Regions from separate parts of the Homo sapiens genome. Here region 1 is linked to region 2. Evidence: fine-mapped expression QTL. A gene starts in region 2. The other region holds a variant in brackets. All regions are shown on one strand. Distances are from middle to middle.

Region 1 (4,371 bases), 23 kb after region 2:
TCCATGTACCCAGAAGTCAGGCTATGAGACAAGCCTGAAGAGAGCTCAGGCCACCGGCATCCCCAGGCCTCTTCCACAGGCTGGCTGTGCAACCTGGGAAAAGCCAGTCCCCTCTCTGGGTCTCCGTTTTCTACTGGGCTAATTCTTCCTGGTAGATCCTTTCCATCGCCTGGAAAAGGATCCTTTCCATCCTTTTCCAGCTCATCATATCTGGACTTAGGGGAATAAATGCTGCCTCAATTTGGGGGACCACTTCCTGCCCCTGCCAAGGGTTAAGCCCCTCTCCATGTTTTTAATTGCAATTCTGAAACACTACCTGGAGCTTGGGCAGCAGGGGAGGCTGGGACCCTGGCCAGAATCCCTAGGGCATTGCTACACAGTGGGGCTCTGGGACCAGCAGCAGTGCCATTTCTAGGGAGCTTGCCAGTAATCTAGGAGCTCAGGCCCTGCCCCAGAGTTGAGAAATAAGAATCTGCATTTTAACCAGATCCCCAGGTGATGTCCAGCACGGGAAGCTGGGCCTTAAGAACAGAGAGCCAGGGAGCAGAGCGAGGGTGTGCAGACTTCAGGTTTCTGCTCATCCATCCCACTCCTCCCACCCTTAGAGAAGATTCGGAGGCCTTCTTGAGGGAGTAGAGGGGGCCTGGGGTAGGGGCGGGGTATCAGGGCAAAGAGAGAGTGGCTGGACCACAGCCTGCCTAATTCCCCTTGTTGCACCTCAGACCCCAAACAGCTTGGGCCAGGAAGGCATTAGGGAAATGTGGGGGACACAGGAATCCCCCCAGACTGACTTCCTGCCTGGCCGGAGGCCTCACACTACCCCAACTTCCTGTACCTCACATGATCCCCCATCCCCCAACACACAGACACACAGACACACACACACACACACACACACACACACACACACAGTCTCTGGGTTTTTTGGGGAGTTTTCTTTTTTTTTTTTTTTTTTTTGAGACGGTGTTTCACTCTTGTGGCCCAGGCTGGAGTGCAGCGGCACGATCTCAGCTCACTGCAACCTCCACCTCCTGGGTTCAAGAGATTCTCCTGCCTCAGCCTCCCGAGTAGCTGGGATTACAGGCTCAAGCCACCACCGTGGTTAATTTTTGTACTTTTATTAGAGACGGGGTTTCACCATGTTGGCCAGGCTGGTCCGGAACTCCTGACCTCACGTGATCCATCCGCCTGGGCCTCCCACGGTGCTGGGATTACAGGCGTGAGGCACCGCACCTGGCCAGTCTCTGGGTTTTAACTCCTGCTTGTCCATTCAACTCTTTTGTGAAAACCATGTCAACGAGAATGAACTACTGTAATGAGGTCAACATTTGTGTGTGAACACAAAGGAACCCCACCCTGATAAGGAAGTAATTCAACAGACTCAAAAAGCTCTGGGCCTGAAGATAATTTAGAGGACTATCTATGTGAGCAGAAAGCTAGAAAGAGCCCAAATACTCAGAAATAGGACAGCAGTTAGTAAATTACAGTAAATTACCCTCCATCAATAGAATGGACCACTAGGCAGACCTTAATAATTATGAGGAAGCTATTGGATCAACTTAATGG[C/T]ATCACATGACCCTGGGCCTTTGAGGCCAAGGTGTTTGGAATACCAGCTTTGTGATTTGTTTTTTCATTTTGTTTTGTATAGATGAGGTCTCATTATGTTGCCTAGGCTGGTTTTGAATTCCTGGCCTCAAGCAATCATCCCACCTTGGCCTCCCAAAGTGCCAGCTTTGTGATTTATTAGTAGTAGGAGTTGGCTGAATAGCCTGATCTCTGAGGTTAAAGGCATCTGTAAAATAGAGATAATGATACTCACCTCACAATGTTGTTAAGAGGATAAAATGATATCATATATCCAGAAGTCCCGGCCCAGTGCTGCATTTTCGCAGGCAAAAATTCATAGTGATGTGTTCCTCATGGTGACAGCCACATAGAAACATACAGTAGGGTGCACAGGAGTGAGGGTTCGAGGCTTAGACAGAAAGTTAAAATGCCACCATGGTAGAGTTATAGGAGATATCATTTTATTTTTCTCCTTCTTGTGGACTTTAGGTGCAGAGGGTTAAATTAGTCATCCTCCTGAGGTCAGGGCAGGTTATCATCAACTGTTCTTGTTTCCGTTCCTTCTTTTCTCATTTCTTCTTTTCTTCATCCTTTTTTTTTTTTTTTTTTTGAGACGGAGTCTCGCTCTGCTGCCCAGGCTGGAGTGCAGTGGCACGGTCTCAGCTCACTGCAAGCTCCACTTCCCAGATTCATGCCATTCTCCTGCCTCAGCCTCCTGAGTAGCTGGGACTACAGGCACCCGCACCCACACCCGGCTAATTTTTTGTATTTTTAGTAGAGACGGGGTTTTACCGTGTTAGCCAGATGGTCTTGATCTCCTGACCTCGTGATCTGCCCACCTCGGCCTCCCAAAGTGCTGGGATTACAGGCATGAGCCACCGTGCCCAGCCCTCTTTCTTTTTTTTTTTTTTTTTTTTTTTTGAGACAGAGTCTTGCTCTATCACCCAGGCTGGAGTGCAGTGGCATGATCTTGGCTCACTGCAACCTCTGCCTCCTGGGTTTAAGTGATTCTCCTGCCTCAGCCTCCTGAGAAACTGGGATCACAGGCGCCTGCCACCATGCCGGGCTAATTTTTGCATTTTTTAGTACAGATGGGTTTTCACCATGTTGCCTAGGCTGGTCTCGAACTCCTGACTTACCTCAAGTGATCCTCCTGCCTCGTTCTCCCAAAGTGCCTGGATTACAGGAGTGAGCCACCACACCCGGCCTGCTCCTTCTCTTTTGTCTTCATTCCCTACTCCTATGTTCTTCCCCCTCCACAGCAACCATTCTAACTTGTTTAATTTGTTTCTTTTTATATGAATGGGTTCTTGAAAATATGTGTCACTGTTGTTGTTTTAAATTTTATTATGAAAATTTTTATACACAAAAGTAGAGAATGAATCCCAATATACTCATTTGTCAAATTCAGAAATTATCAGCTGGGCATGGTGGCTAATGTCTGTAATCCCAGCACTGTGGGAGGTTGAGGGGGGAGGATCGCTTGAGCCCAGGAGTTCAAGGCTAAGATCATGCCACTGCATGCCAGCCTGGACAACAGAGCCAAACTTATTCTCTTAAAAAATAATACTAAAATAGGTCGGGCGCGGTGGCTCACACTGTAATCCCAGCACTTTGGGAGGCTGAGGCGGGAGGATCACTTGAGGTCAGGAATTCAAGACCAGCCTGGCCAAACTGGCAAAACCCCGTCTCTACTAAAAAACACAAAAATTAGGCGGGGCACGGTGGCTCACGCCTGTAATCCCAGCACTTTGGGAGGCCGAGGCAGGCGGATCACAAGGTCAAGAGATCAAGACCATCTGGCCAGCATGGTGAAACCCCACCTCTACTAAAAATACAAAAATTAGCTGGGTGTGGTGGCACGTGCCTGTAGTCCCAGCTACTCGGGAGGCTGAGGCAGGAGAATCGCTTGAACCCGGGAGTCAGAGGTTGCAGTGAGCCGAGATCGTGCCATTGCACTCTGGCCTGGGCGACAGAGCAAGACTCTGTCTCAAAAAAAAAAAAAAAAAATTAGTTGGGTGTGGTTGCATGTGCCCGTAATCCCAGCTACTCGGGAGGCTGAGGCAGGAGAATCCCTTGAACCCAGGAGGCAAGTGAGCCAAGATGGCACCACTGCACTCCATCCTGGGCGACAGAGTGAGACTCTGTCAAAAATAATAATAATAATAATAATGATAAAATAAAAACAAAAATTATCAAAATTACGCCTTGAAATCTTGCTTAAATCTTTGCCGAAAATAATACATTTGCTTTATCTTCCTCTTTTTATCCTTTGCTGAAATACTTTAAATCCCATACTTGATGCCATTTCACCCCTATATTGTTTTTTTTTTTTTTTTTTTTTTTTTTTGGAGACAGTCTCGCTCTGTTGCCCAGGCTGGAGTACAGTGGCATGATCTTGGCTCACTGCAAGCTCTGCCTCCCAGGTTCACACCATTCTCCTGCCTCAGCCTCCCGAGTAGCTGGGACTACAGGCGCTCACCACCACGCCCAGCTAATTTTTTGTATTTTTAGTAGAGACAGGGTTTCACCGTGTTAGCCAGGATGGTCTCGATCTCCTGACCTTGTGATCCACCCACCTCGGCCTCCCGAAGGGCTGGATTACAGGCATTAGCCACCGCACCCGGCCTCACCCCTATATTCTTTAGCTATGCATGCCCCCATCATTGAACCTAACCACAATGCTATCACACCCAACAAAATTAGCAGTAATACCTTCATATCATCTCATATCTAATCCATAACCAACATATCTAAATTGTCTCAAAATGTACCTTTACACTTGGTTTGTCACGTGTGTGTATT
Region 2 (4,384 bases):
ATTGCGCCATTGCACTCTAGCCTGGTCAACAAGAGCGAAACACCGCCTCAAAAAAAAAAAAAAAAAAAAAAAAAAAAAGATTAAATGTGACATTGGGCAGAGTTAGAAAAGAAACATCTACATTCAGCCAGGGCAACAAGAATGATCTAGAACATGTGGTGTGAGTGGAAAGAACCAGCGTCCAAGCTGCTGTGCCTCTGCCTGGCTGTCTGGTGGGGCTGCCAGGGGGTGGTGCCTGCAGAACAGCCAAACAGCTGGCCAGATTTTCCCCCTAAGCCAGATGATGCCATTTGTTGTTCCACCCCCAGCCAGCTGTCAGTCCTTCCCGGGCCCCAGGAGAGGTGCCCCATTGCTGCCCCCTGCACTCAGCTGTCTCTGACTCCTAGGGCAGGCAGAGGGGCAAGGGGACTGGGCACACTGGCTGGGTCAAGGAGTCAAAGGTCTTCACTTGGCACTCACTGCCACAGGCCATAGGAAGCCAACCCAGTGTGGGCCCAGGGTTTGGGACAGATCCCACCAGCTGGAGCAGGAGAAGGCACCTCCAGCCCCCTTTAGCCAGGGCCTCTCTCTGTTCCTGACCGGCACCAAGGCCTGGGTGGTGGGAGGGGCTCAGATCTGGCAGAACACCAGCTGTCCAGGCAGATTAGCAGGTCGGAGTGCCCACGCTGGCTTCACCAGCCCAGAGGACTTGGGCAAGTCACTGCTCTCCTTTTGCTGCCCTTTCTCTGTGAGAGGTGAATAAACATCGTAAACAGTGTTGTCCTCAGATGGGCTTAGAGAGCTTGGCAAGCTAGAGCGTGTGAAGTCCAGGCATGGTGCACTGCACGGGGCAGGTGCTGGTCCGTTGGGCATTCTTTTTCCTGGGAAAGCCTCTCTGTGGCTTTGTTTCCTCCTCTGTGAAGTGGGGGGTTTGTAGGAATCCAGCGTGACCACAAGATGAAGGCCTCAGCATAATTCCTGGAACCGAGGTCCTCCATAAACAGGATTCTGCCTCAGGACCCGTGTCCCTCCCCTTTTCTCTCTCCACAGGACTCAGCCCCTGGCAGGCTTGTGGTGCAGATAGTGAATGGTCTTGCAGTGGCGGGATTTGTCCACCTGTGTGTCCCTGTGTTTGAGTTTCTTCTGCTTGAGTCTGAACTTCAGGCTGGTGGCCACATAACCCAACACTCTCACTTTACGGATGAGAAAACAGAAGCCCAGAGAGGGCCAGGGACTTGTCCAGGTTCCTTCAGCCAGTCCATGCCGGAGCTGTACTAGGACACCCTCCTCTCTGTGCCCAGAGCGATGGCCACAACACCCCTTTCTGTCTGCTTGAAAACCCCTCTTCATTCTTGCTGATCTGTACTCATCTTTCAGTCTCTGCCTCTTTAGCAACCAGAGCCTACGAAGAGGTGACCAGGCTCTGGTCACCCCCCAGAGCAGAGAAACTGGGGGTGTAGGGGTGGGAACTGAAGGGGAGGGGCATGGCAGGGGCTGAGAATGCGGCTGTTCTGGCCTGGGGGCCTGAGCCAGGCTGCCTACAGAGGAGCCAGTATGCCCAGACATTAGAGCTTTGTGAGTTGAAGAGCTTGGTGTGGGGATGGTTGTTTTGTTGAGCTGACATTGTTTCAGGTTGACTGAATGTCAGTGTCTTAGTGTCCAGGAGCCAGCTCTTTAGAACCAGCCAGGGTCTTGGGGAGAATGTGGCTGGGGCATCCTAGTCTGGATCAAGGAGGGGAGGGGGCTGTCCGTGCCCCGTGAGTGCTGAGCAGTTCCCTGTGGAGAAAACTGCAGAGGAGGAGTGAGTCCTAGCGTGGATACCAAGAGAGACGAGAGGAGCAGGCGCCCTTGCACCTTGGGGCCAGAGCAGAAGGGCCTGGCCAGAGTGGAGGATGGACAGAGGCAGGACAGGGACCTCTGGAGGCTGGTGCCTTCCTGCCAGGGCACTGGGAGCCCTGAGGACAGAGCGATCAAACCTTCATCCACAAAGGAAGAGTCAGGAGAACCATGGGGACCAGGAGGGCCCCGAGAGGCCTTGGGGGCTGGCCAGGCGGGTGGGGTGGGCCAGACTCACAGCTGTCCAGATGTGGGTAAGAGATAACTCTGTTTACTGGGCACCCAGTGGGAGCGGGGTGGGGGGTGTGGGAAGGGGCTCCCAGGGCCAGTGGGGCGGGCAGATTAGGAGGCGGGGGCATGAGTCAGGGGTTTGCGAGCTGCCCCTGGGGCGCTGGTGCTGTCAGAACGAGTGGGAACGTAGCTGGTCGCAGAGGGCACCAGCGGCTGCAGGACTTCACCAAGGGACCCTGAGGCTCGTGAGCAGGTGGGCAGGGCAGGGAGGGGCTGGGGATGGTCCTTCGGTGCCTGCCCTGAGGGCTTCTACAGGTGCCCAGCCTGAATCTATGCCCAGGTGGGCCAGGCTCCTGACCTCCAAGGGGGTGCAGGTGGGTGGGGTGAGAATGTTACCATGCATATGTTGCCCCTAAGGGAACAGGCCCATTGGCACCTGAAAAGAGGAGGGTGGCAGGTGGTCAATGGCAGCAGAGGTATGTGTGGCTCCGGTGCGTGTGTTGCGGGGGGTATCTGATCCCCTCCAGGTATGGGCCCTTGTCAGCTTGTTGGATCCCACAGGGTCAGGTCTTGTCCACCCCAGACTCCTTCCTTCCTAATGGGGTCCTCAGACCACCCCCTCTCCCACCTAGGAGGCAGGATGTCAGCTGACACAGTATCCCCTTTGGGACACTTCCAGGGGTCTACCTGGGGCACCTGGCTCCACGCCCAGCGTGGTCAGTATTGGAGGGAACTGCAGAGCCTCCTACCACATGAGAATCTCAAAACACTTAGCTCAGGCTAATTCCATGGGAACTGAGGGCAAATCAGAGGGGAAATGAAGATGGCAAGTCTGACTGTAACCCCAGCAGCAAGGGATAATGACAGCAAACATTTTCATAGCGCTCCTTATATGCTAGGCACTGTTCTAAGCCCCTTACAAATGTAAATTTCCTTAATGCTTACAACAGGTCTATGAGATGGGCATCATTATCATCACCCCCATTTTACAGATGAGAAAACTGAGGCACAGAGAGTTGAAGTCACACGCCGTTAGTAAATGGCAGGGCTGGGCTTTGAATCCAGGCAGTCCGACTGCAGAGTCCGTGATCTTAACAACTAACTCTAAACCAGCTAACAGTTGTTTTGTTGGAGGCAACTTAGCATAGTGCTTAGGGATGTGGCTGGAGTCAGGTAGTCCAGGCTGTAACCTGGCTCTGATACCTACCTGCTGGGTGGCTGAAGCAGGTAAATGTCTCTGAACCTCAGCTTTCGCATCTGTAGAATGGATTAATGACATTACTCTTCTTCCTCTTAGAATCCCCAAACCACTTCACAGAATGCTTTGGGGATTCTAAGAGTTAAGGCAGTACAGTTCTTTGTGCAGTTCGGGCTGATTACACAAAGGTGGTGCCATACCACTAGGAAGTTGTCCCTGTCATCTGGTCAATCCCCTCTCCCGCCGTGTCTTCCCAGCTGTGCTATACCTTCTAGGCTCAGATGTCCCGCTCACCCTTATCTGGCCTGGCCCTGGCCAGCTGGCTAGCTGGCCAGGTGTTTGGTGCACTTCCAAAACTTGGGGCAGCGATCTGGGTCCAGGCCCTTATCAGTGCTAGGCAGCACAAGGCCTGCAGCTGGGGGGCGGCCTGGCTGGCGGGTGGCAATCTGGGTCATGGGTGCGCCCTGTAAGTCTCCAACTGAGCTCAAGGCACCTCTGTTTTCCCCTCTTCTCTCTCACTGATGTCTCAGAACCCTGGCAGGAAGGCACTCCCATTGTACAGATGGGGTGACTGAGGCCTACAGGCTGGAAGCTGCCCAAGGCCCTTCAGCCAGTCAGTGGCAGAGAGGCAGCCTGGACCTCTGGATTCTGCAGCTCTGAGGGCCCCTCTGACCATTCCACTCCTCAGATAGGCAACCAAGGCCACAGTCCCAGCCCCATGGGTGGGACTTTTAGTACCTAAGGCTTAGACACCCTGGAGGCCTTAGCATCTGAGGCCTAAGAAAGTGCATGGGCAAGTCCAGAGAAGGAAGAAAGTGAATAAAGATGGAAGAGAAAGAGGAACTTTGGGAGAAGCAGAGAGGGAGGAGGAAAAAGAGAGAGAAGAGGTGGGTCATCAGGGTCCTCAGGAGCAAAGCCAAGCCCTGCAGTAGGGACTACCTCGTCCTCAGGTCCAGGACCCCTCCCCCGCACCCCATCACTTGCCCCACCTGCCAAGGCAGGGGTCTCTCCCATTCTCCAGTCTGGTGAGATCCAGTAATCCCCTCCCTACCCCCAGGACTGCAGGGTCACCCATTCCTCAGAAAGAAGGCTGTTTGCACATCCCTTTCTTTCTTTTTTTTTTTTTTTTGAGACGGAGTC

Evidence for each region. PIP is the estimated chance that this variant, and not a neighbour inherited with it, causes the effect.
Region 1: its variant is the best candidate, but not a certain one, in a credible set for the expression of SLC4A1 in whole blood (INTERVAL, PIP 0.84).

The regions. Positions count from the first base shown.
Region 1 is chr17:44,243,204-44,247,574 of GRCh38, reverse strand. No RefSeq gene overlaps it. Among named protein-coding and RNA genes, the nearest start is that of SLC4A1, 23 kb to the left of the region's middle. The variant C/T (reference allele first, on the strand shown) is at 1,567.
Region 2 is chr17:44,265,969-44,270,352 of GRCh38, reverse strand. SLC4A1 (solute carrier family 4 member 1 (Diego blood group)) reads left to right here and starts at 2,218. Exons shown (of 20, transcript NM_000342.4): 1 at 2,218-2,299.